Homo sapiens: one gene and its partners. The protein of the gene in region 5 purifies or fractionates together with the protein of the main gene of each other region. This does not show direct contact. Each region holds a gene or a part of one and is shown on either strand. Other genes may lie near its edges.

Evidence for each region.
Region 1: the proteins of ALK (region 5) and DNAJB12 purify together in Homo sapiens (affinity purification with mass spectrometry; one large-scale study listed by BioGRID and IntAct). This does not show direct contact.
Region 2: the proteins of ALK (region 5) and CDK13 purify together in Homo sapiens (affinity purification with mass spectrometry, with the first as the bait; one study listed by BioGRID). This does not show direct contact.
Region 3: the proteins of ALK (region 5) and PRKCQ purify together in Homo sapiens (affinity purification with mass spectrometry, with the first as the bait; one study listed by BioGRID). This does not show direct contact.
Region 4: the proteins of ALK (region 5) and P4HA1 purify together in Homo sapiens (affinity purification with mass spectrometry; one large-scale study listed by BioGRID and IntAct). This does not show direct contact.
Region 6: the proteins of ALK (region 5) and KRT74 purify together in Homo sapiens (affinity purification with mass spectrometry, with the first as the bait; one study listed by BioGRID). This does not show direct contact.
Region 7: the proteins of ALK (region 5) and RAB35 purify together in Homo sapiens (affinity purification with mass spectrometry, with the first as the bait; one study listed by BioGRID). This does not show direct contact.

Annotation. Positions count from the first base shown.
Region 1 is NC_000010.11:72,337,920-72,341,419, reverse strand, and holds part of DNAJB12 (dnaJ homolog subfamily B member 12), read left to right. Parts: intron 1-249; coding exon 250-435; intron 436-551; coding exon 552-631; intron 632-3,108; coding exon 3,109-3,218; intron 3,219-3,500. UniProt on the Homo sapiens protein: Acts as a co-chaperone with HSPA8/Hsc70; required to promote protein folding and trafficking, prevent aggregation of client proteins, and promote unfolded proteins to endoplasmic reticulum-associated degradation (ERAD) pathway.
Region 2 is NC_000007.14:39,956,756-39,960,255, forward strand, and holds part of CDK13 (cyclin-dependent kinase 13), read left to right. Parts: intron 1-3,500. UniProt on the Homo sapiens protein: Cyclin-dependent kinase which displays CTD kinase activity and is required for RNA splicing.
Region 3 is NC_000010.11:6,426,648-6,430,276, reverse strand, and holds the end of PRKCQ (protein kinase C theta type), read left to right. Parts: intron 1-1,914; coding exon 1,915-2,070; 3' UTR 2,071-3,129; downstream 3,130-3,629. UniProt on the Homo sapiens protein: Calcium-independent, phospholipid- and diacylglycerol (DAG)-dependent serine/threonine-protein kinase that mediates non-redundant functions in T-cell receptor (TCR) signaling, including T-cells activation, proliferation, differentiation and survival, by mediating activation of multiple transcription factors such as NF-kappa-B, JUN, NFATC1 and NFATC2.
Region 4 is NC_000010.11:73,086,867-73,090,366, reverse strand, and holds part of P4HA1 (prolyl 4-hydroxylase subunit alpha-1 isoform 2 precursor), read left to right. Parts: intron 1-3,500. UniProt on the Homo sapiens protein: Catalyzes the post-translational formation of 4-hydroxyproline in -Xaa-Pro-Gly- sequences in collagens and other proteins.
Region 5 is NC_000002.12:29,192,274-29,194,930, reverse strand, and holds the end of ALK (ALK tyrosine kinase receptor isoform 1 precursor), read left to right. Parts: intron 1-1,008; coding exon 1,009-1,707; 3' UTR 1,708-2,157; downstream 2,158-2,657. UniProt on the Homo sapiens protein: Neuronal receptor tyrosine kinase that is essentially and transiently expressed in specific regions of the central and peripheral nervous systems and plays an important role in the genesis and differentiation of the nervous system.
Region 6 is NC_000012.12:52,568,063-52,570,843, reverse strand, and holds part of KRT74 (keratin, type II cytoskeletal 74), read left to right. Parts: intron 1-10; coding exon 11-175; intron 176-859; coding exon 860-985; intron 986-2,454; coding exon 2,455-2,675; intron 2,676-2,781. UniProt on the Homo sapiens protein: Has a role in hair formation. Specific component of keratin intermediate filaments in the inner root sheath (IRS) of the hair follicle.
Region 7 is NC_000012.12:120,106,754-120,110,253, forward strand, and holds part of RAB35 (ras-related protein Rab-35), read right to left. Parts: intron 1,715-3,500; coding exon 1,664-1,714; intron 1-1,663. UniProt on the Homo sapiens protein: The small GTPases Rab are key regulators of intracellular membrane trafficking, from the formation of transport vesicles to their fusion with membranes.

The DNA of each region.
Region 1 (3,500 bases), on a different chromosome or scaffold from region 5:
AGCTTGACCATTGTCTTGAGGAGAACAAGGAGCCTGTGTTACCCTCCACCCAGCCAGGCTGCCCAGATCCACTGAGGGGTCTTCCTGCATGCCCCCTCCTTACACTGGCCAAGCTTCCTGCCCACCCCAAGGACGTCTGCTTCCTAAAGCACTGCTTGAGTACCTGAGAAAAGTGAGCACTCGGCTGCCATGGGAGCCTCCCCCCGCACCCCAGGATCCTCAGGCCTGACCTTTCCTCCTCCTCTCCAGCCATTGGCACAGCATATGCGGTACTCAGCAACCCGGAGAAGAGGAAGCAGTATGACCAGTTCGGCGATGACAAGAGCCAGGCGGCCCGGCACGGCCATGGGCATGGGGATTTCCACCGTGGCTTTGAGGCCGACATCTCCCCTGAAGACCTCTTCAACATGTTCTTTGGCGGCGGCTTCCCTTCTAGTAAGTTCCCCACCCTCCCCACAGCCAGGTATCCCTGGGGTGATGGTGGGAATGGCATGCCAGCCTCTCCCTTTCCCAACAGACCTGGCTCCTGACTCAGCCCCTCTGACCCCCAGGTAACGTCCACGTCTACAGCAACGGCCGCATGCGCTATACCTACCAGCAAAGGCAGGACCGCAGGGACAACCAGGGTGATGTGAGTGAGGAGGGCGCCAGGGACAGCGCGGGAAGGGCACCAAATCCACCCCAGGGAGGGGGCTTGGAGGAGGGTGTTCCCTCCCACACTGTCCATTCTGGGACCAGCAGAGTCCCCATAACTCTCAGCCAAGGAGCCCTCTGGGCCTCCCTTGCCATTCTGCTGAGTGACACCAGAGGGCGCCACACGAGGGAGCCATGCTCCACATTGCCGGCGGGAGCGCGGCTTTGCTGGCCTGGCTGGGGAGTGGAACCAGAAACCCCACCCACAGCCAGGTTTGAGTGTGAGGCTCCCATGCAGACCGCTCGCTGGTAAGGCCAAAGTGACATCCTCTAAGCAATGGAAAGTTACACTTTGTGAGAGAATTTTATTTTATTTTTCATTTTTTTCATGGGTCTCAGCTATTTTCTCTCAACTTTGTGAGAGAAATTTCTTTTTTTTTAATTGAGATGGAGTCTTGCTCTCTCGCCCAGGCTGAGTGCAGTGGCGCGATCTCGGCTCACTGCAACCTCCGCCTCCCGGGTTCAAGCCATTCTCCTGCCTCAGCCTCCCGAGTAACTGGGATTACGGGTGCGTGCCACCACCCCCGGCTAATTTTGTATTTTTAGTAGAGATGGGGTTTCACCATGTTGGCCAGGCTGGCCTTGAACTCCTGACCTCTGGTGATTCACCCGCCTCAGCCTCCCAAAGTGCTGGGATTATGGGCGTGAGCCACTGCGCTCTGCCACTGAGAGAATTTTAAAGGATGACAACATAGGTGCCGACTCTTCTTGCTAAAAAGCCAAAAGATACTTTTAAAAAGATATTTACAAAAATTTGGGAGGCCAAGGTGGGTAGATCACCTGAGGTCAGGAGTTTGAGAGCAGTCTGGCCAACATGGTGAAACCCCGTCTCTACTAAACATACAAAAATTAGCTGGGCGTAGTGGCAGGCGCCTTTAATCCCTACTCGGGAAGCTGAGGCATGAGAATCACTTGAACCCAGGAGGCAGAGGTTGTGTTGAGCCGAGATCGTGCCACTGCACTCCATCCTAGGCAACAGAGCAAGACTCCGTCTCAAAAAAAAAAAAAAGTATAAAAATTATAACTAGACAGTGCTTCAAACACATTTTGTATGCCACAGATCAAAGAACAGCTAGCTGGCTAAAATTAAAATATTGTGGACAATTGCAAAACATTTTAAATTCTGGCCAGGCGGAAGGGGTTTCCTTTTGCTCTGACAATATTTATTCAATTTTTTTTTTTTTTAATTTTTTGAGATGGAGTCTCGCTCTGTTGCCCATGCCGGAGTGCAGTGGCACAATCTTGGCTCACTGCAACCTCTGCCTCCCAGGTTCAAGTGATTCTCCTGTCTCAGGCTCCTACGTAGCTGGGAGTACAGGCGCCCGCCACCACACCCAGCTAATTTTTGTATTTTTAGTAGAGACGGGGTTTCACCATGTTGGCCAGGCTGGTCTCGAACTCCTGACCTCGTGATCTGCCTGCCCCTTCCTCCCAAAGTGCTGGGATTACAGGCGTGAGCCACCATGCCGGCCTTTTTTTTTTTTTTTTGAGACAGGGTCTCGTTCTGTCACCCTGGCTAGAGTGCAGGAGCCTCCCCTCCCAGGCAAAGCTCCCACCTCAGGCTCCCCAGTAGCTGGGACCACAGGCCCACACCACCACACCCAGCTAATTTTTTGTATTTTTTGTAGAGATAGGGTCTTACTTTGCTGTTTGAGCACAGGCTGGTCTCAAACTCTTGGGCTCAAGTGGTCCTCCTGCCTCAGCCTCCCACAGTGCTGGGATTACAGGCATGAGCCATTGCCCCTGATCAAAATTTTTTTATTTTGTATCTAACAACAGAAGAGTTTAACATCACAGATTATCACACAGTGAATATATTTGTTAATTTTTATTTCTAATTCTTCTTTTTTTGTTTGTTTGCTTTTTCTGCACCCTAGAACCAGTGCTATTTCTAATTTTTATTTTGTTTTAATTATTATTTTTTGTAGAGATGGGGGTGTATGTTGGCCAGACTGGTCTTGAACTCCTGGCCTCACGTGTTCCTCTCATGTTGGTCTCCCAAAGTGTTGGGATTACAGGCATGAGCCGCCACACTGGCCATAATGTTTAAATTGGTAATATATTTGTGTGGTTCACATCTCAAAAACTTGTATATACTGCATGTCTCCTTCCAGCCCTGCCTTCCATTCTCCTGGAGGAAGCAACTTTTGCTGATTTTTTTTTTTTTTTGGCATTCTGTCAAAAGTAAATGCAGACACCTCACTTCCTCCTGTATTTCACACCAGTTGCTGCTTTGTTTTTATCTGGGAAAGCTGGCAGGTGAAGGAGCGTCTGTGTTTTGGAGCCTCGTGGAGGGAACGGCAGAGTGGTGTCATGTCTCCCCAGGCTCCACTATTCTAGGGGAGCTAGTGGTGATTATGGCTGACACCACACCCCACCCAGGTCCAGCAGAGTGACATTGGCTCTTCCCTCCAGGGCGGGCTAGGGGTGTTTGTGCAGCTGATGCCTATCCTCATCCTGATTCTCGTGTCAGCTCTCAGCCAGCTCATGGTCTCCAGTCCACCCTACAGTCTGAGTCCAAGACCGTGAGTACATGGGTGAGGCCGGGCCATGGGCAGACAAGGGGCTTTAAATTCTCAGCCCCATCAGGGGCCTTCTTTCCCATCCTGATCCAGCCAGTGTGCGATCATAATGCAGAAACCTGGCTTCGAATCAAGAAAATATACTTTCTCTATTCAACTAGGACTCTTAAGCTTTTTAGGATTATGGTCCCCTAAGAAATTGCAGCGAGAGCTACAGAACTTTTCCCTAAAACTATGCACACATGTGCACACACACATACACACACACGATACACATGTACACAC
Region 2 (3,500 bases), on a different chromosome or scaffold from region 5:
TTTTGTGTTTTTTGTAGTGATGGGTTTTACCATGTTGCTCTGACTTGTCTTGAACTCCTGGCCTCAGACAATCCTCCCGCCTGGGCCTCCCAAAGTGTTGGGATTACAGGCAAGAGCAGCTGTGCATGGCCAAGTCTAAACTTCCTAATGTTCCATCAGTTAATGCCTTTTATGATCTGGCTCCATTCTATCACAGTTCTGTTTTCAAAGACATTTTTATTTCTATTTTTATACTTGCTGTTCTGTTAGCTTAAATGATAAGAGACACTCCAAACTCTCTTTTGCTCTTCATCTCCAGCTTTGCATTTAAAACTCAGCTCAAAAATCCCACTGTCGTGTGTGTGTGTGTGTGTGTGTGTGTGTGTGTGTGTGTGTGTTTTGGTAGAGATGGTGTTTTACTGTGTTGCTCAGGCTGGTCTCCTGGGGTTGAACAATCCTCCTGTCCTTGCCTCCCAAAGTGTTGGGATTACAGGCATGAGCCAGTGTGTCCAGCCTTAAATCCCACTATCTTGAGACCTTTTTCCATTCATCTAGATAAAAGTTAGTTTTTTTTCCTGTGCCCCCACAGCACTTTATCTTTGTTGTAGAGTTTTAAAAAATTCTGTTTAATATCTGCTTAGTTGGCTGGCTGCCTTTGTGTTTTCCCTACTAGATTGTAAGCTCCTAGAGGACAAATTACAGAGCTTATTTATTGGTGGTTTAATTTAAATACATTTTTTCTCTACAGATTAGTGCAAACCAGTCTGCACAGATGCGAGTTATATCTGTAAACTTGCTTGGTATTTTGGTTTACATACACTCTCATACTCTAGGATAGGGCAGGTAATTGTTTCGATTTATAAGGAGGGAATTTAAGAACCTCCTTCTAGCTTCTACTTTATTAGAATGAGTAGAGGATGCTGGGAGTCACTTTAGTGTGAATGGAATAAATTCAGACCTAGTGTTTATATTTGCCCTCTGTTGTGCTGATCAAGATAAATTCTTGGTGCGTTTGAATTAATCTTTAAAGAGAAAATTTTCTGAGCAGACATTATGTCAAACTTATTTCCCAACTCTGAAAAATTGTAGCTATTTTTGAAAAACCAGTTGGAAGTGAATGTTGCTTAATATTCACATATAAGATAATTTTAATTTTTTCCTTTATTTTGGACTTTTTTTGTGTGAATATCATTTTGTTGTTGTTATTTTGGTTTTGGTTGGCTTTGTTTTCTATAAATTTATAAGCTTTGAAGTGGGTGTTGGAAGCAAAAGTACCAAGCTAAAATCAGAAGCATTACTTGTTTGCAGTGATTTTGTTCCTTGAATTCCTGCACATTTAAATTGTGGAAGAACCTAGTGTTTTTTATGTATTTGGAAAGTAAAATTGATGTACATTAGAGGATAAATATAGGTAAAACTGGAATGTAAGTAAAATGGAAATGAGGTTAGTGAGAGGAACCGAAAATGGTAAATGATCTACACGCCTCCCTGCTTTTCTGTTTGCATTTTCAGTTGCATAGGGGCACTTTCACTGGGATATTTTATTGGCATTCCAAACTCAATTTACCTAACATTAAATTATTTCACCTTTCTTAGAGTCATTTTTTTTCTGTTACTGCTCTTTATTATTTTTCACCTGTTTGCAAGCATAATAGAGGCTAATGGTAGAAATTTTCCGTTAGTATAGAAAAGTATAAGAGATTAAAAGGCCCCTTAGGTCCAGCTACCTGATGAGATGATCACTCATGACATTTTGATAAATATTTTTCTAGACTTTTTTATGCATATATGCACAGGGATGTATGATTTTTCCATAAGCGGGAACATGTAACAATGCTGTCTTGTAGCCTGTACTCCACAGTACAGCATACCATTTTTATTAGTAGCTCCTAGTATTCTGTTGTATGGATATAGCATAAATTGTTTGGCTGAATCCACTTTGATAAATTCTTAGTTTTGTTTTTTTTTTAATTTTTGCTATGTGTGTATATCTAAAGCAAATTTTTTTTTGTGTATTTGTTCCATTATCTTTAGATTGAATTTCCTGGGGATAAAATTTTTGAGGCAAAGGTGGTATATACATTTGTAACATTGATACACTTTCAAAATGCCTTTCAGAAGGCTTTTACAAATTTACATTTCCCAACAGTGTGGAATTACCCATTTCCTGAGTCTCACCAACACTTGGAGTTGTCACATATTCCATTATTGGTTTTTTTTGTTGTTTTGTATTTTTAGTAGAGATGGGGTTTTGCCATGTTGGCCAGGCTGATCTTGAACTCCTGACCTCAAATGATCTGCCCACCTTGGCCTTCCAAAGTGCTGGGATTATAGTTGTGAGCCCCTATTGGTGCCTGGCACCATTATCGTTTCATTCATTTGCATTTCTTTGATATTTAATAAGGTTTAATATATTTTCATCTGTTTACTGGATATTTTAATTTCTTTCTTTTTTTTTTTTTGCTCTTGTTGCCCAGGCTGGAATGGTGCGATCTCGGCTCACCGCAACCTCTGCCTCCCGGGTTCAAGCGATTCTCCTTCTTCAGCCTTCCGAGTAGCTGGGATTACAGGCATGCGCCACCATGCCCAGCTAATTTTGTATTTTTAGTAGAGACGAGGTTTTTCCATGTTGGTCAGACTGGTCTCGAACTCCTGGCCTCAGGTGATCCACCCGCTTCAGCCTCCCAGAGTGCTGGGATTACAGGCGTGAGCCACCGTGCCTGGCCTTTTTCTTTCTTTTTTTTTTTTAATTGAGACCGGGTCTCACTCTGTCACCCAGGCTGGAGTGCAGTGGCACCATCTGCTCACTGCAACCTCCACCTCCCAGCTCAAGTGATCTCTCACCTCAGCCTCCCGAGTAGCTGGGATCGCAGATGCATGCCAGCATGCCCAGTTAAATTTTTTATTTTTGGTAGAGACAGCGTTTCACCGTGTTGCCAAGGCTGGTCTCGAACTCTTGAGCTCAAGCAGTCTGCCTGCCTTGGCCTTTCAAAGTGCGGGGATTACAGGTGTGAACCACTGCACCTGGCCAGATGTTCTAATTTCTTGATTTTTTTTTTTTTAAATTAACTTGCAAGACCTACTTGTGTGTTATAGCTACTAACTTGTTTTTTTTTTTTTTTGCGGCATTAGCAAGTATTTTTCGTGAGCTTGTCTTTTATCTTTTAACCTTCTTTATGTAACGTTTTATTTTAGGACTAGGTTTTTGATTTGTCTCTGTGTGTGTGTGCACACGTGTGTTTTAAGTGGTAGTAGTTTCTCCCAGGTACCTAGTGTCAAACTTTAGTAGTACTTTTATCTCTTCATAGTTGTAATGAACTTCTTGTTCTGTAAAGTTTTTTCTTTTTTTTTTTTTTCCAGTGGTCTTTTGGTCCATACATTTATCTTGGAATGCTTTGTTAGTTCTGCTTGCTTTTAGATTTCTCTTTGAGCCCCTCCTGTTCTCTGCATTCAGATTTAAAATACCACTTTCATTTGATCATTTTTTTTTTTCTATAAGATACTTACAGAATCAAATACTT
Region 3 (3,629 bases), on a different chromosome or scaffold from region 5:
GTACATTTCCATTTATGTCCTCACTGGCAAAAGTCATTAAGCTACATCAGCAAAGGCAGAATGACCTGGCTCACCTGCGAGACGGGCCACCATAAAGTGAAGTCAAAAATAAAGCAAGGTTGGGCTGGGCATGGTGGCTCACGCCTGTAATCCCAGCACTTTGGAAAGCCGAGGCGGGTGGATCACCTGAGGTCAGGAGTTCGAGGTCAGCCTGGCCAACATGGTGAAACCTTGTCTCTACTAAAAATACAAAAATTAGCTGGGCATGGTTGCGGGCGCCTATAATCCTGGCTACTCGGGAGGCTGAGGTGGGAGGATTGCCTGAGCCCAGAAGTTTGAGACTAGCCTAGGCAACATAGTGAAACCCCATCTCTACAAAATTAAGTGGGCTTGGTGGTGCATGCCTGTAGTTCAAACTCCTCAGTAGGCCAAGACAGGAGGATTACTTGAGCCCAAGAGGATGCAGTGAGCTGGGTTCACACCACTGCACTCCAGCCTGGTGACAGAGCGAGAGACTGTCTCCAAAAATAAAACTTTTTAGAAAAACAACAAAAAAAAGTCATTAAGAAAGTAAATTTTAAGTTATGTATATCACAATTTCTAAAAATAATGATTTTTAAAAGAGTAGAGCAAAGTTGTGGGTTTGCCAGCCTTAACCATTCCCTGTGATTGCCTGGATAGACATGGGCCATATCCGTGCTGAAGGGGGCCAGGCTCATGGACTTCCCAACAGATTCCACCCCAGAGAACGCACAGGCTATTAGTCATGATAGCGAATGGCCAGAAGAAGCAGGTGCATCTCATTCCCAGGGCAAGAATAGTTGTTCTCAACATCTGTCCCAAGCTCCAGTGATGTTCCAAGGACCCAACAGGCCAGCCTCAAGCACTCTAATTACTTGTGACAGAACCACATCTAATACGTGGGTTAGTCATTTGTGATAAAATAAAAATTTTACCTTGTTTTTAGCTATCAGAACTATTAAACCATGTCTCACCTTCCACTGCAGATTAAAATTGACTTAATATTTTGCACATAAAAATCAAAACTTTGATCTAAGCTTACCCTAAAGGACATTCCCAGTTCTGCCAGTAGGAAACTTTCCCTGACCTGTGGTCTGAGCTGCCATTGACCTCACAGCCCCAGGGCCCCTTGGAGGGTGGGAGGGGCCTGGTTCTTCATTTCGCTTCTCTGTGTTCATAGCACTTTCTGTTGATAATGGTTGTTCTCAATCTTGGGACACTGAATTGAACACCATACTGAACAGCATGTATGAAATAGATGTTTGCTTTCCCTTTCTCTGTTGTTTGGTTTGGTTTTGGTTTTTTTGCCATGAAAACCAATGGACCAAGTGGTCTGAAAGGAGTCTGTCCCAGTCTGTGCTGTCTAAAAAAGCCCAAGATACTTACTAATAAAATTAACAAGGGCAGGGGACTGACAACAGCCAAGAACGTTGATAAAAGAACAGGAATATGTAATTGTGAAATTCCTTCTCTCTTCCCATCCCTCCGCTCACACCCCCTCACTCCCTCTCCCCACCACCCTCCCTTATCCCCACCTTGTGTTCCATGAAAACTGAAGAGGCAGAGGTCAAATTCAGGTGGATCACTTTTTCAAAGGTTGCCAACCCTGCTTCATGTAAACCATTAGAAACATTAGATCCCATTTGAATGTCTACAGTCGTAGTCTTTCTGTGAATTTATGAATTTATATTATTATTAAGCTGAGGACACAGGATCACAGCCATGTTCAATGAGAGCTGGGCATGGTCATCTGTAGGCATTGCCTCCATTTAGTGTCTCTGCAAACACCAACTTTGCCATACGCAGATCACGGCCTAGATAACAAAAGTGAAGATCATGAACTTAATGGCTGATTTTTCTTCTCTTTCTTTCTTCCCTTAAACTCTGACTAAGAAATCACCATTTGACTGCAGCAATTTCGACAAAGAATTCTTAAACGAGAAGCCCCGGCTGTCATTTGCCGACAGAGCACTGATCAACAGCATGGACCAGAATATGTTCAGGAACTTTTCCTTCATGAACCCCGGGATGGAGCGGCTGATATCCTGAATCTTGCCCCTCCAGAGACAGGAAAGAATTTGCCTTCTCCCTGGGAACTGGTTCAAGAGACACTGCTTGGGTTCCTTTTTCAACTTGGAAAAAGAAAGAAACACTCAACAATAAAGACTGAGACCCGTTCGCCCCCATGTGACTTTTATCTGTAGCAGAAACCAAGTCTACTTCACTAATGACGATGCCGTGTGTCTCGTCTCCTGACATGTCTCACAGACGCTCCTGAAGTTAGGTCATTACTAACCATAGTTATTTACTTGAAAGATGGGTCTCCGCACTTGGAAAGGTTTCAAGACTTGATACTGCAATAAATTATGGCTCTTCACCTGGGCGCCAACTGCTGATCAATGAAATGCTTGTTGAATCAGGGGCAAACGGAGTACAGACGTCTCAAGACTGAAACGGCCCCATTGCCTGGTCTAGTAGCGGATCTCACTCAGCCGCAGACAAGTAATCACTAACCCGTTTTATTCTATTCCTATCTGTGGATGTGTAAATGGCTGGGGGGCCAGCCCTGGATAGGTTTTTATGGGAATTCTTTACAATAAACATAGCTTGTAACTTGAGATCTACAAATCCATTCATCCTGATTGGGCATGAAATCCATGGTCAAGAGGACAAGTGGAAAGTGAGAGGGAAGGTTTGCTAGACACCTTCGCTTGTTATCTTGTCAAGATAGAAAAGATAGTATCATTTCACCCTTGCCAGTAAAAACCTTTCCATCCACCCATTCTCAGCAGACTCCAGTATTGGCACAGTCACTCACTGCCATTCTCACACTATAACAAGAAAAGAAATGAAGTGCATAAGTCTCCTGGGAAAAGAACCTTAACCCCTTCTCGTGCCATGACTGGTGATTTCATGACTCATAAGCCCCTCCGTAGGCATCATTCAAGATCAATGGCCCATGCATGCTGTTTGCAGCAGTCAATTGAGTTGAATTAGAATTCCAACCATACATTTTAAAGGTATTTGTGCTGTGTGTATATTTTGATAAAATGTTGTGACTTCATGGCAAACAGGTGGATGTGTAAAAATGGAATAAAAAAAAAAAAAGAGTCCTCTTAATCGTTTACTTCCCCGCTTGCCCCCCACAAGAACTTGCTTCTGCTGTGTCAGTCCTCAAAATGTAGCTAGCATTGAGATGATGTTTTACAGTTGGGGGATTGGCTGGGCACGATGGCTCACGCCTGTAATCCCAGCACTTTGGGAGGCCAATGTGGGCAGATCACCTAAGGTCAGGAGTTCGAGACCAGCCTGGCCAATATGGTGAAACCCTGTCTCTACTAAAAATACAAAAATTAGCCAGGCGTGGTGGCGGGGGCCTATAATCCCAGCTACCTGGGAGGCTGAGGCAGGAGTAGAGTAAGACAAAGGGTGAGGAAGTCAGATGACATTAAGGCAATTGTAAGAAAAGCAAGTCTGCATAATATTCGGAGTCACTAGCCTACCTCATCACATGGCTGGAAATAACTTTAGATATTATATTTAAAATAGAATAATTAATATAAGCAGACTGTTGACAGTCTGCAGGTGTGCTGGAACATTTTCCTGAC
Region 4 (3,500 bases), on a different chromosome or scaffold from region 5:
AGCCCAGGAGTTCCAGACCAGCCTGGGCGACATAGAAAGACTTCATCTCTACACAAAATAAAATAACATTAGCTGGGTGTGATGGTGCCTGCCTGTAATCCTAGCTACTTGGGAGGCCGAGGCAGGAGGATTGCTTGAGCTGGGGAGGTTGAGTCTTCAATGAACTGTGATTGTGCTACTGTACTCCAGCCTGGTGACCGAAATGAGTCTCTGTCTCAAAAAAGAGTATACTTGGCCAGGCGCAGTGGCTCACACCTGTAATCCCAACACTCTGGGGGGCCGAGGCAGGAGGACTGCTTGAGCCCAGAAGTTCAAGACCAGCCTGCGCAACATGGTAAAACCCTGTCTCTACAAAAAAATTAAAAAGCCAGGTGTGGTGTTGTGTGCCTGCAGTCCCCGCTACTTGGGAGACTGAGGTGGGAGACTCACCCAAAGCCTGGAGATTAAGGCTGCGGTGAGCCAAGATCACGCTACTGCACTCTAGCCGGGGCATCGGCAGTATCCTTATGACTTTTTGTAATCCCTTCTTTTGCTCCTTACTACCCTCTCTGTATCCCTAGGAAACCATTGTTTCCTTTCTGTTGCTTAAGATTAGTTTTTATTTTCTAGAATTTTATAAAAATGGAATTGTATATACGCTTTTTTTTTTTTTTTTTAGCACGGGGAATCTCCTTACACTCAGCATAATTTGAGATTCATCCATGTTGTTATGTGTTCATAGTTTTTTATTGTTGAATAGTATTTTATTTTATGAATATACCATGATTTTTTTTAACCCATTTACCCTTTGATGGACATTTGGATTGTTTTCACTTTTTGACTATTATGAATAAAGCTGCTATGAGCATTCATGTACAAGTTGTTGGAGAGAGATATGCTTTCTTTTCTCTTATATTAATGCCTAGGAGTGCAATAGCTAGATGTGATAGGGAAATATTTTTTCCCAGTTGTTGGCTTGTCTTCATTCTTTAAACAGTGTGCTTCAAAGAGCAGTTTCTATTCACAGACAACATGTCTGTGACTCTTCAAAAAAGCTCTAGTGAATAGGTTAATTCAGCAGAGTTGTAGCTTAGAAGGTCAATATACAACAGTAAATTGTATTTCTATATACTAATAATGAACAATTAGAAACTAAAGTGAAAAATTCCCATCTCATTAGCACTAAAAACCATGAAATACTTAAGTATTAACTTTTCAAATGGTGTGTAATATTTGTATGTTGAAAATTATGAAACACTGATTATATCATGTTCATGGATTAGAAGACTCAGTATTAAGATACCTACTCTTCTCAAACTGATTTATAGATTCAGCACATTTCTAGTCCAAATCTCAGAGGATTTCTTATAGAAATTAATGAGCCGATTCTAAAATTAATATGGAAAACCAAAGGAACTAGAAAAGCTAAAACAATTTTGAAAAAGAATAACAAAGTTGGAAGATTCATACTACCTGATTTCAACTTAGTTTAAAGCTGCAATAACCAAGACTGTGGTATTGGAGAAAAGATAGACATACAGATCAATTGAACAAAATAGAGAATTTAGTCACACAAAAATTGTCAATTCATTTTGAAAAAGTTTAAGGGCAGTTCAACAGAGGATAGTCTGGAACAGTTGAATATTCATATGCAAAGAAAAAACAATCTTTGTTTTATTTGGGCACCAAGTATCCACTGTTGGACACTGGGCAGTCCCTTGCCCAGGAATTTATGTGAATATTGGGACAAGTGACATGAATCCACCAGTGGATATGAAATAAAGTTTAATCACACAGTAAACAGCAAAAGGACTCCTCAAGGTCAAGGACTTAGGTTTAGTCCAGGATGAAGCAAGAGTGAAACAGGGTGGGTGGCTTTGGTTTTTATTGACCAGAAGGTGGAACTTGTTTGATGGTCCCCATGTGTGGTATTTACATGGTTTCAACTTCACACCAGTACCAAGGGAGGGAATACTGGTCCCCAAGTGTGGTATTTATATGGTTTCAACTTTACACCAATACCAAGGGAGGGAGTACCTGGGCTTTCTTACAGACTTACCCAGATGTGGGACAAAAGGGAGAGAGGTGTGGGACCTGAAGGCAATCTGCACTCAAACATCAAAATGAAATCTTTTTATTAGAGCCTCAATCTGTACTTGACACTGTATGCAAAAATTAGTTCAAAATGGTTCGTAGGCCGGGTCTGGTCGCACACGTTTGTAATCCCAGCATTTTGGGAGGTTGAGGCAGGAGGATTGCTTGAGCCCAGGAGTTTGAGACTAGCCTTGGCAAGAGTGAGACCCGTTTCTATTTTAAAAAATGTTCATAGATTGTGAAGTAAAATGTACAGCTATAAAATATTTGAAAGAAAACATAGGACAAAAATATTTTTGACCATGGGTCAGGCAGAGATTTCTTGGACATGATGCCAAGAACATGATTCATAAATGAACAAACTGATAAATTAGACTTCATCAAAATTAAGAAATTCTGCTCTTCCAAACACACTGTTGAGAGAATAAAAAGACTTCACAGACTGGGAGAAAATATTCCCCATCACATATCTGACAAAAAATAGACTGTATAAGGAACTCAAAGCTGGGCATGGTGGCTCACGTCTGTAATCCCAGCACTTTGGGAGGCCAAGACTGGAGGATTGCTTGAAAATCCAGGAGTTTGAGACCAGCTTGGGCAACATAGCAAGACCCCATCTCTATTAAAAAAAGTAAACAACCTAATTAAAAAGAGCAAAAGATTTGAGTAGACACTATGCAGGAAGGTGTATGAACAGCAGATAAACACCCCAAAAGGTGTTAAACATAGGCCAGGCATGGTGGGTCATGCCTGTAATCCCAGCACTTTGGGAAGCTGAGGTGGGTGGACCATCTGAGGTCAGGAGTTCAAGACTAGCCCGGCCAACATAGCGAAACCGTCTCTACTAAAAATACAAAATTGGTCAGGTGTGGTGGCACGTGCCTGTAATCCCAGCTACCTAGGAGGCTGAGACACGAGAATCACTTGAACCCAGGAGGTGGAGGTTGCAGTGAGACAAGATTGTGCCACTGCATTCCAGCCTGGGCGACAGAGTGAGACTCTGTCTCAAAAAAAAAAAAAAAAAATAAAGGCATTAAACATCATTAGTAATTATGGAATTGCAAATTAAACCCATAATGAGATAGTACTATATGTCTATTGTGAAAATTAAGATATTAAGAGAAACTAAGGAAAAAACGGCAATACAAAATGCTGGTAAGAATGGGAGCAATGGAAACTTTCATCCTTTGCTGTTGGAAGGGCAAATAGTGTAGCTACTTTGGAGAAACGTTTGGCAGTTTTTTATGAAGGTAAATATATACTTGTCATATGACCCAACATTCCCGCTCCTAGGTATTTACCCAAGTGAAATGAGAACTTAGGTTGATTTCCTCTTTTTTTTTTTTTTTTTTTTTTTTTTGAGATGCACTCTCACTCTTTTACCCAGGCTGGAGTGCAGTGACACAATCTCGGCTCACTGCAACCTC
Region 5 (2,657 bases):
TCTTCTATGTTACAGTCTATTACTGTGAAAATGATCTAGCACACAGTTGTTTTTGTAAATGGTTTTCCTCACAGCACTTCAGCATTTCCTGGGTTGTGCAAAGGGTCCCTCACATCCAGACTAGTTAAAGAATGCCTGTAATCCCAGCACTCTGGGAGGCCGAGGCAGGTGCCTCACCTGAGGTCAGGAGTTCGACACCAGCCTGGCCAACATGTTGAATGAAACCTTGTCTCTACTAAAAACACAAAAATTAGCGGGGGTGGGGGGGTGGGGGGGTGGGGTGCATGCCTGTAATCCCAGCTACTCAGGAGGCTGAGGCACGAGAATGGCTTGAACCCACTAGGCAGAGGTTGCAGTGAGCCAAGATTGAGCCATGGCACCCCAGCCTGGGCGACTGAGCAAGACTGTCTCTAAAAAACAAACACAAAAACATGCACTGTGGTACCTGCACATGTGATGATGTGGCACAGGAAAACTTACAATCAAGTGTAAAGTACCCAAATGGAAATGGAAAGCAGCTGGGAAGAGATCAAAAAATAAACCCTGTAGGCCAACATGGCATGTGTCTCCTCTCCTCCTCCCCCCAGCCCCCCACCATCACTCTTGAAGTCAAACACATAGGCTTTTATTTTTATTTTTTCCAGTTGGAACGATTTTAGTGGAACTAGACTGGAATAATACAAATAATAATCTTAATTTTTTTTTTAAATCCACTAATCTTTAAAAACTGGCCAAAGGTCTCCTCCTCTGCAAAGCTTTTCCTGCTCCACTCTGTCCCAGGCACCCATACACACTTCCATTATAGCGCTTATCCTCTAAGGTCTTTGAGGATAAGGATGACTTCCCATTCATTTTGTATGCCCCAGTGCCTGTAAGTTACTATATTCTCAATAAATCCTGGTTTCCTCATCTGTAGAATATGTTTAGATAACATCATCTCTAAGGTATCTTCTAGATCCAACATTTTTTGTCTCTGATTCAAAGTTTTAATAATTTCCCCTACGGCAGGACCCGGATGTAATCAACACCGCTTTGCCGATAGAATATGGTCCACTTGTGGAAGAGGAAGAGAAAGTGCCTGTGAGGCCCAAGGACCCTGAGGGGGTTCCTCCTCTCCTGGTCTCTCAACAGGCAAAACGGGAGGAGGAGCGCAGCCCAGCTGCCCCACCACCTCTGCCTACCACCTCCTCTGGCAAGGCTGCAAAGAAACCCACAGCTGCAGAGATCTCTGTTCGAGTCCCTAGAGGGCCGGCCGTGGAAGGGGGACACGTGAATATGGCATTCTCTCAGTCCAACCCTCCTTCGGAGTTGCACAAGGTCCACGGATCCAGAAACAAGCCCACCAGCTTGTGGAACCCAACGTACGGCTCCTGGTTTACAGAGAAACCCACCAAAAAGAATAATCCTATAGCAAAGAAGGAGCCACACGACAGGGGTAACCTGGGGCTGGAGGGAAGCTGTACTGTCCCACCTAACGTTGCAACTGGGAGACTTCCGGGGGCCTCACTGCTCCTAGAGCCCTCTTCGCTGACTGCCAATATGAAGGAGGTACCTCTGTTCAGGCTACGTCACTTCCCTTGTGGGAATGTCAATTACGGCTACCAGCAACAGGGCTTGCCCTTAGAAGCCGCTACTGCCCCTGGAGCTGGTCATTACGAGGATACCATTCTGAAAAGCAAGAATAGCATGAACCAGCCTGGGCCCTGAGCTCGGTCGCACACTCACTTCTCTTCCTTGGGATCCCTAAGACCGTGGAGGAGAGAGAGGCAATGGCTCCTTCACAAACCAGAGACCAAATGTCACGTTTTGTTTTGTGCCAACCTATTTTGAAGTACCACCAAAAAAGCTGTATTTTGAAAATGCTTTAGAAAGGTTTTGAGCATGGGTTCATCCTATTCTTTCGAAAGAAGAAAATATCATAAAAATGAGTGATAAATACAAGGCCCAGATGTGGTTGCATAAGGTTTTTATGCATGTTTGTTGTATACTTCCTTATGCTTCTTTCAAATTGTGTGTGCTCTGCTTCAATGTAGTCAGAATTAGCTGCTTCTATGTTTCATAGTTGGGGTCATAGATGTTTCCTTGCCTTGTTGATGTGGACATGAGCCATTTGAGGGGAGAGGGAACGGAAATAAAGGAGTTATTTGTAATGACTAAGCATGGGGAAAGACATTCTTTACTTGAAAAAGAAAAAATCATAGACAACTGAAATGTCACTTTAGGTGACGGTTAGATGCTTTTAATTGTGCTGATTCATCACCAATTGTAAAAAATGTCGTGAGTAGTTCCAGTAGTATAGCAGAAGTGTGTATATACTCATCTCAATGAAATGCATACATTCCAAGTGCTTTGAGTAGGATAAAGCACCAATACAGATCCAGAGATTCAAACATCCTATTAAATATACCTCATGCCTTAAGAAAATCCTCCTACTAGAAGTGAAAAACTGAGTGTGAGGTTTCCTACTGGATTTAAAACTCAAGATTTAAACTACTTATTTAAAAAATTTCCACTAATTAAATTTTGATCATTTAAAAGCAAAAATTTTAAGCAGCAGTGATACATGGAAGCATGGAAACATATCCATTTGTGGGCATAAGCGTCAATACATTTTAGGCCAAAACCTTCTATTCGTTTCAGTCATGGAATGAACTACC
Region 6 (2,781 bases), on a different chromosome or scaffold from region 5:
CTCAATGCAGGAGATCGCTCAGATCCAGACTCACGCCAGTGAGACCTCTGTCATCCTGTCCATGGACAACAACCGGGACCTGGACCTTGACAGCATCATCGCTGAGGTCCGCATGCATTATGAGGAGATCGCCCTGAAGAGCAAGGCCGAGGCCGAGGCCCTGTACCAGACCAAGGTGGTCACCGAATGGGTCTCCTCCCACAGCAGCCCTTCGCTTCCTGGGAGGGGTCACCTGCACAGTGAATGTGAGGAATACTTTTGTGGGCATGCTGAATGAAAGAAAGGTTCCAACCAAGGCTTCAAGGAAAAAAGGAATTCTTAGCAGAGCTTGTTATCAAAGATAAATCATGAAACTGGTATGGATTGAATATATGCAACAGAGAGGATCCCTCACTTCTTTCCTCCATCCACGAACTGCCTGTTCCTCTCTGTTGCAGGTGAAAGAAGTGAGGTGGTAAAACAAACACACTTATAGGAATGGGGGCATGTTGCCACAGGGCAGAGGGAGAATCACAGACTTGCGGGAGTGTAGCCATGGGTGAATTTGGTGGGGGGCGAGTGAGAGAAGGAGAAGCCTGTAGCTCTTTCCTGATCCCCACGGGAAGACTTTCAAAAGGAAATGGAAGGCGAGGAGTGCTCTGAGTAATGGAACTATGCTTTGGGTAAACTGAGTAATGGAACTATGTTTGGGGCTGTCAGGGAGAAAACCCCTTACCTGGGCCCCCAGGACCCTGTCCCAGCACTCCTCTTCAGTTCCGTTAAATCCCACCGACAGCCAGGGTGGCAGGGGTGGCTTATTTACAGGACCCTTCCCCAGTGCCCTTGTCTCATCACCAACTTCCTATCTCTGGGAAACCAGATCCAGGAGCTGCAGCTGGCAGCCAGTCGGCATGGTGACGACCTGAAACACACCAGGAGCGAGATGGTGGAGCTGAACCGGCTCATCCAGAGGATCCGGTGTGAGATCGGGAATGTGAAGAAGCAGGTGGGCAGCAGCCCCACAAAGAACTCCCGGTCTCCACAGCAGGCTCTGGGATGAGGAAATGGGGCCTGCCCTTTGGGAACAAGCAAATATCCCCTGCTGGGCTTAGGGGTCCCTCGGCCACCCACAGTCTCCCTTTCCCACCCTGCCTCGGTACCCTACCATCAGAGCTGGTACCCCGCCCAGAACTGGGAGGAGCCTCAAACCTATTTCTCTGACTCCTCATTTTGCAGATAAAGCAACTGGGCTGGGAAGGGGAAGGGACTTTCCCAGAGCCCCCAGCTGGTAATGAATGGAGCTAGGATTAGAACCCAGGTTCCCCTTCTGCAGATTTTTTCTGTGTCCAATGAACCTGCCCCATGTCCCCTTTGGGTGCCCCCTCTGAGGGCAGACCCTCTGTCTCCTCCTCCCACTGGACATGGAACATGTGTGGGGTGCAGAGGGTATGCATCAGGCGCCTCTGTTGGCCACACCAGGTTCCTGCTCTCGGAGTGGGGCATGGTCTGTTGACTGAGGGACACAGCTGTCGATGAAGCCCTCCTGGGTTCCCTTGCCCTGTGCCATGGTACTACTTCCATGTTAGTGGGCGGGGGGGTGGGGGTGGGGGGCCTGTCTTACCTGACAGCAGCAAATTTTAAACACTGCGTCAGTGGGGAGATGATATTGGAGGCTGGAGGATCCTTCCTGTGACCTCTCTGAGAACCAGGTCTGCTCTGCTAGTGATAGAATTGACCAGCGGAAAGATCTGAGCCTGTTCTCCTTCTGGTGCCCCCACAACCCTCCATGCTCTGCAGGCAAACACAGGGACAACTCTACGACTCTACATTTGGCCGATTCACAAATTCCATGAGCATAGTTCCTCCCTCTCTGTTAGCAACAGGCATCGCAATGCCCCCCAGATGTTCATCAGAGTCCAGCTTCTGAGGTTGTGCCTATAATTTAGGGCCTTATCCTCCTGCTCTAAGGGAAGGCCAGATGTGGGAGCCTTCACACAGACTCTCCCCAGAGTGCTGGAGTCCAGAAACACTCATCTGGATGCTAACAGATCAGAAGGATCCCCAATGGGGAGAGGTCCTGCAGCAGGAATCTGATCACAGTGGGACCGTGGCATACTGTCTCATCCTCAGGGCTGGCCTTGCTAGGGGATCGGGCATGATTTTCCTGAACCTGTAGTATTTTGAATCTGTAGATACTGGTGGCCTCCGGTCTCAGGCACTATCTAACTTTGCAAACATCGACATTTCTTCCTGACCTCCTGAAATGCAACTGCTTCCACAGCTTCATGTGATAACAGCTTTGAATACTCCTCTGCAATAGAAAATAGAAGAGACAAAGTTCTGGTGTTGGCTTTGCAGCTTTTACTCCTTGTCACCTAGGGCCCCATCTGCAAAATGAGGGCATTGTTCTACTTAACTGGTATGAGCTAAATGTAATTTTCTGTTCTGATGGTCTCTCTGTTCTTTGCCCTTCAGCGTGCCAGCCTGGAGACGGCCATCGCTGACGCTGAGCAGCGGGGAGACAATGCCCTGAAGGATGCCCAGGCCAAGCTGGATGAGCTGGAGGGCGCCCTGCACCAGGCCAAGGAGGAGCTGGCGCGGATGCTGCGCGAGTACCAGGAGCTCATGAGCCTGAAACTGGCCCTGGACATGGAGATTGCCACCTACCGCAAGCTGCTGGAGGGCGAGGAGTGCAGGTAGGTGGGGTGGAGGGGAAAGTGTGAGAAGGGACTGGGGTGTGGCTCCTGTCTGGCTGAGGGGCCACCTGGAGAACAACATGGTTAGTGCCAATACAAGCAAGAG
Region 7 (3,500 bases), on a different chromosome or scaffold from region 5:
CATTTTTTTATTTTTAGTAGAGACAGAGTTTCACCATATTGGCCAGGATGGTCTCAATCTCCTGACCTCATGATCCACGCGCCTCGGCCTCCCAAAGTGCTAGGATTACAGGCGTGAGCCACCGCGCCTGGCCAACGGAATCACTTTCTAAAGGCAGCCCAGCCATGTCAGAGGGAATTCTCCACAAGATAATCAGAGATGTCAACCCCACCCAAAGCATCTGTAATGAACCTGATTTTTTTTGTTGTTTTTTGAGATGGAGTCTCGCTCTGTCGTTCAGGCTGGAGTGCAGTGGTGCCATCTCAGCTCACTGCAACCTCCCTCTCCCGGATTCAAGCAACTCTCCTGCCTCAGCCTCCCCAGTCGCTAGGATTATAGGTATGCACCACCACGCCCAGCTAATTTTTGTATTTTTAGTAGAGACGGGGTTTCACCATGTTGGTCAGGCTGGTCTCGAACTCCTGACCTCATGATCCACCCGCCTCGGCCTCCCAAAGTGCTGGGATTACAGGTGTGAGCCACCGCACCCGGCTGAACCTGATGTATTTAACAAACAAAAATGTGTTCCATCTTACCAGTGATTAGGGAAATACAAATGTAAACAAGTTAGCCCTTTTTGCCTATCAGCTCAGCAAGAATGAAGACAGCTACTAAGATCCAGCACTGACCAGGGTTGACAAGGGGCACTTTCCACCCTTCAGTGGGACTGGATTAAATGACTCCAGCTTCTTTGAAAAGCAGGTTGGCAGTACCTATGAAAATTCTCAGTGCATACACCCTGTAAGCCAGTAACCCCACTTCTACAGAAACACGTGCACAAGAATAAGTATCAGCTGGGCGCAGTGGCTCACGCCTGTAATCCCAGCACTTTGGAAGGCCAAGGTGGGTGGATCACCTGAGGTCAGACGTTCGAGACCAGCCTGACCAACATGGTGAAACCCCATCTCTATTAAAAATATAAAAATTAGTCGGGCGTGGTGGCAGGTGCCTATAGTCCCAACTACTTGGGAGGTTGAGACAGGAGAATTGCTTGAACCCAGGAGGCAGAGGTTGCAGTGAGCCGAAATCGCGCCACTGCACTCCAGCCTGGGTGACAGAGCAAGACTCCATCTCAAAAAAAAAAAAAAAAAAAAAAAAAGAATAAATATCGCCTATATCCCAAGTAGCTAAGCATCGCTGAAAACACAACCAGAAGTCAGGCACGATGTAACAGCAGCGTCAGTGCACCATGTGGTGCCTTCAAGCACAGAAAGCCCACCGCACTCAGATGAACCACAAAGGCCTGCATGTGGAGCGCAGAAAGAAATCAGAAAGACACACGCTGACCACAGGCTGCCAGGGAGGCATAGGGGGCAGGAGCAGGGACTGTGTCCCGGGTGGCACCATAGACGCTGTTATGGGAACCTTCCTGTTTGGACCATGGGTGGGAAAATGATGGGCCAGCCAAAGGGTTTTCGTGAGCAGGTGCATTAGACAGACCACAGAGGCTTCTGACAGAAGCGCCACAAGGTCCTAAGCCCCACTCCATCTTCTTCCCTCCTCTGGCAACCAGAATGAGACAGTTCCCAACATCAGGCAGAGGCAACTCTGTTTGGTGCCAGGGAGGGGATGTCAACAAACAAACAAAAACGACACCCCAGCAGCACTGCAGGGGAGGACTCACCTGAGAAAGTGTTGTCTGCAAAACGCAACAGTAAACTGCTCTTGCCCACACCTGCAAGAGAGAAAGCACTGCGATGAGGGGGGCAGGTGGGTCCCCTCCCCGCAGCCCCAGCCCTTCTTCCGGGAGAGGATGCCTCAGTCCCAACTCTTAAGAAGCTCGGTGGGACCCAGCTCACTTCTCAATGCTCTTTCCACCTCCCTGAGCGGCCACACACCAAGAACATCTCTTCCACTCGATCCCTGACCTTTTCCTTCGTCCTTGTGTAAGACAAGCTGCTCCCAAATCCCCTGGGGGAGAGATGAGAAAGGGACTGGTGCCCAGGCCCTAGGCTGAGGGCTGGCCCAAAGGGAGATGCCAGACGACAAAGCAGAATGAAGGTCAACCACACGAAACGGCCCCCAAGTGCGTCTACAACATGGTCCCTAGAAAAGTGCACAGCACGTTGTAGCACATCAGTTAGGGAGCCGCCCAAAATGAAGAGCTGTAGAGCGGGAAAGGACCCTTGAGATCATCAGGGCTATTTTGCAGGTGAGGAAACCAAGGCCCACATAGCTAGAACTCAATGGCTACCATCTTTCTGGCTGATGTCCCCGCCGGGTGGGCTGGTGGAGTGGAGGGTCTGCCTTATACCCATCAGGGCAGCAGCCCACATGTGCTCAGACCATGCACCAGCCACAGCAGCTCCTGGCTGCTTAGAGCACAAACATGTACACATCTGGCCTCCCCCACTTTTTTTGTAAAGAAATGGGGTTTCAGGCCAGGCGCGGTGGCTCATGCCTGTAATCCCAGCACTTTGGGAGGCCGAGGCAGGCGGATCACCTGAGGTCGGGAGTTCAAGACCAGCCTGACCAATATGGAGAAACCCCGTCTCTACTAAAAATACAAAATTAGCTGGGCGTGGTGGCACATGCCTGTAATCCCAGCTACTCGGGAGACTGAGGCAGGAGAAGCACTTGAACCCGGGAGGCGGAGGTTGCAGTGAGCTGAGATCATGCCACTGCACTCCAGCCTGGGCAACAAGAGCGAAACTCTGTCTCAAAAAAAAAAAAATGGGGTTTCATTCAGTCACTCAGGCTGGAGTACAATGGTGCAATCATGTCTCACCACAGCCTCCAACTCCTAGGCTCAAGTGATCCTCTGACCTCAGCCTCCCGAGTAGCTGGGACCACATGTGCATACCATCATGCCCAGCTAATTTTTTTATTTTTAGTAGGGACAGAGTCTGGCTACGTTGCCCAGGCTTTTTTTTTTTTTTTTTTTAATCTTTTGTAGAGACGAGGTCTTGCTATGTTGCCCAAGTTGGTCTCAAACTTCTGGCCTCAAGCAACCCTCCCGCCTGGGCCTCCCAAAGCGCTGGGATTACAGGCATGAGCCACTGCGCCTGGACCTCTCCCCTTGACTTCAACTCACAGTGCTTTCAGCCTGCCAAGTACACCTGTTCCATGTCCTCCTATCCTGTCCCCAATCTCCAACACCCCTGAGGCCAGCCAAGTTAATTGACCACAAAGAATTCACATGCATCGGGCTGTGTGTGTGGTGAGCCCTTGGATGCCTCTTTGATTATAATTCTGGCCACATCTCTTGAGATGAGGAACCTCAGGCCCAGAGTGGCCGGCCTAAGTGCCTCTGTGAGCAGCAGTAAAGCTGAGATCTGCATCCAGGCCGGACTCCTCCAGAGTGCTAACACTCCTCCCAATACACATTGCTGGGAGTCTTGCGTCTGGTTCAGGAAGTTTGGAAAAAATGACCTGTGGGGGCTCCAACATCTCACTCCTGTTAGATTTTTAATGAAAATGCCACGAAAGCTATGAAACCCCCTGAAACAAAGTGCAGATTT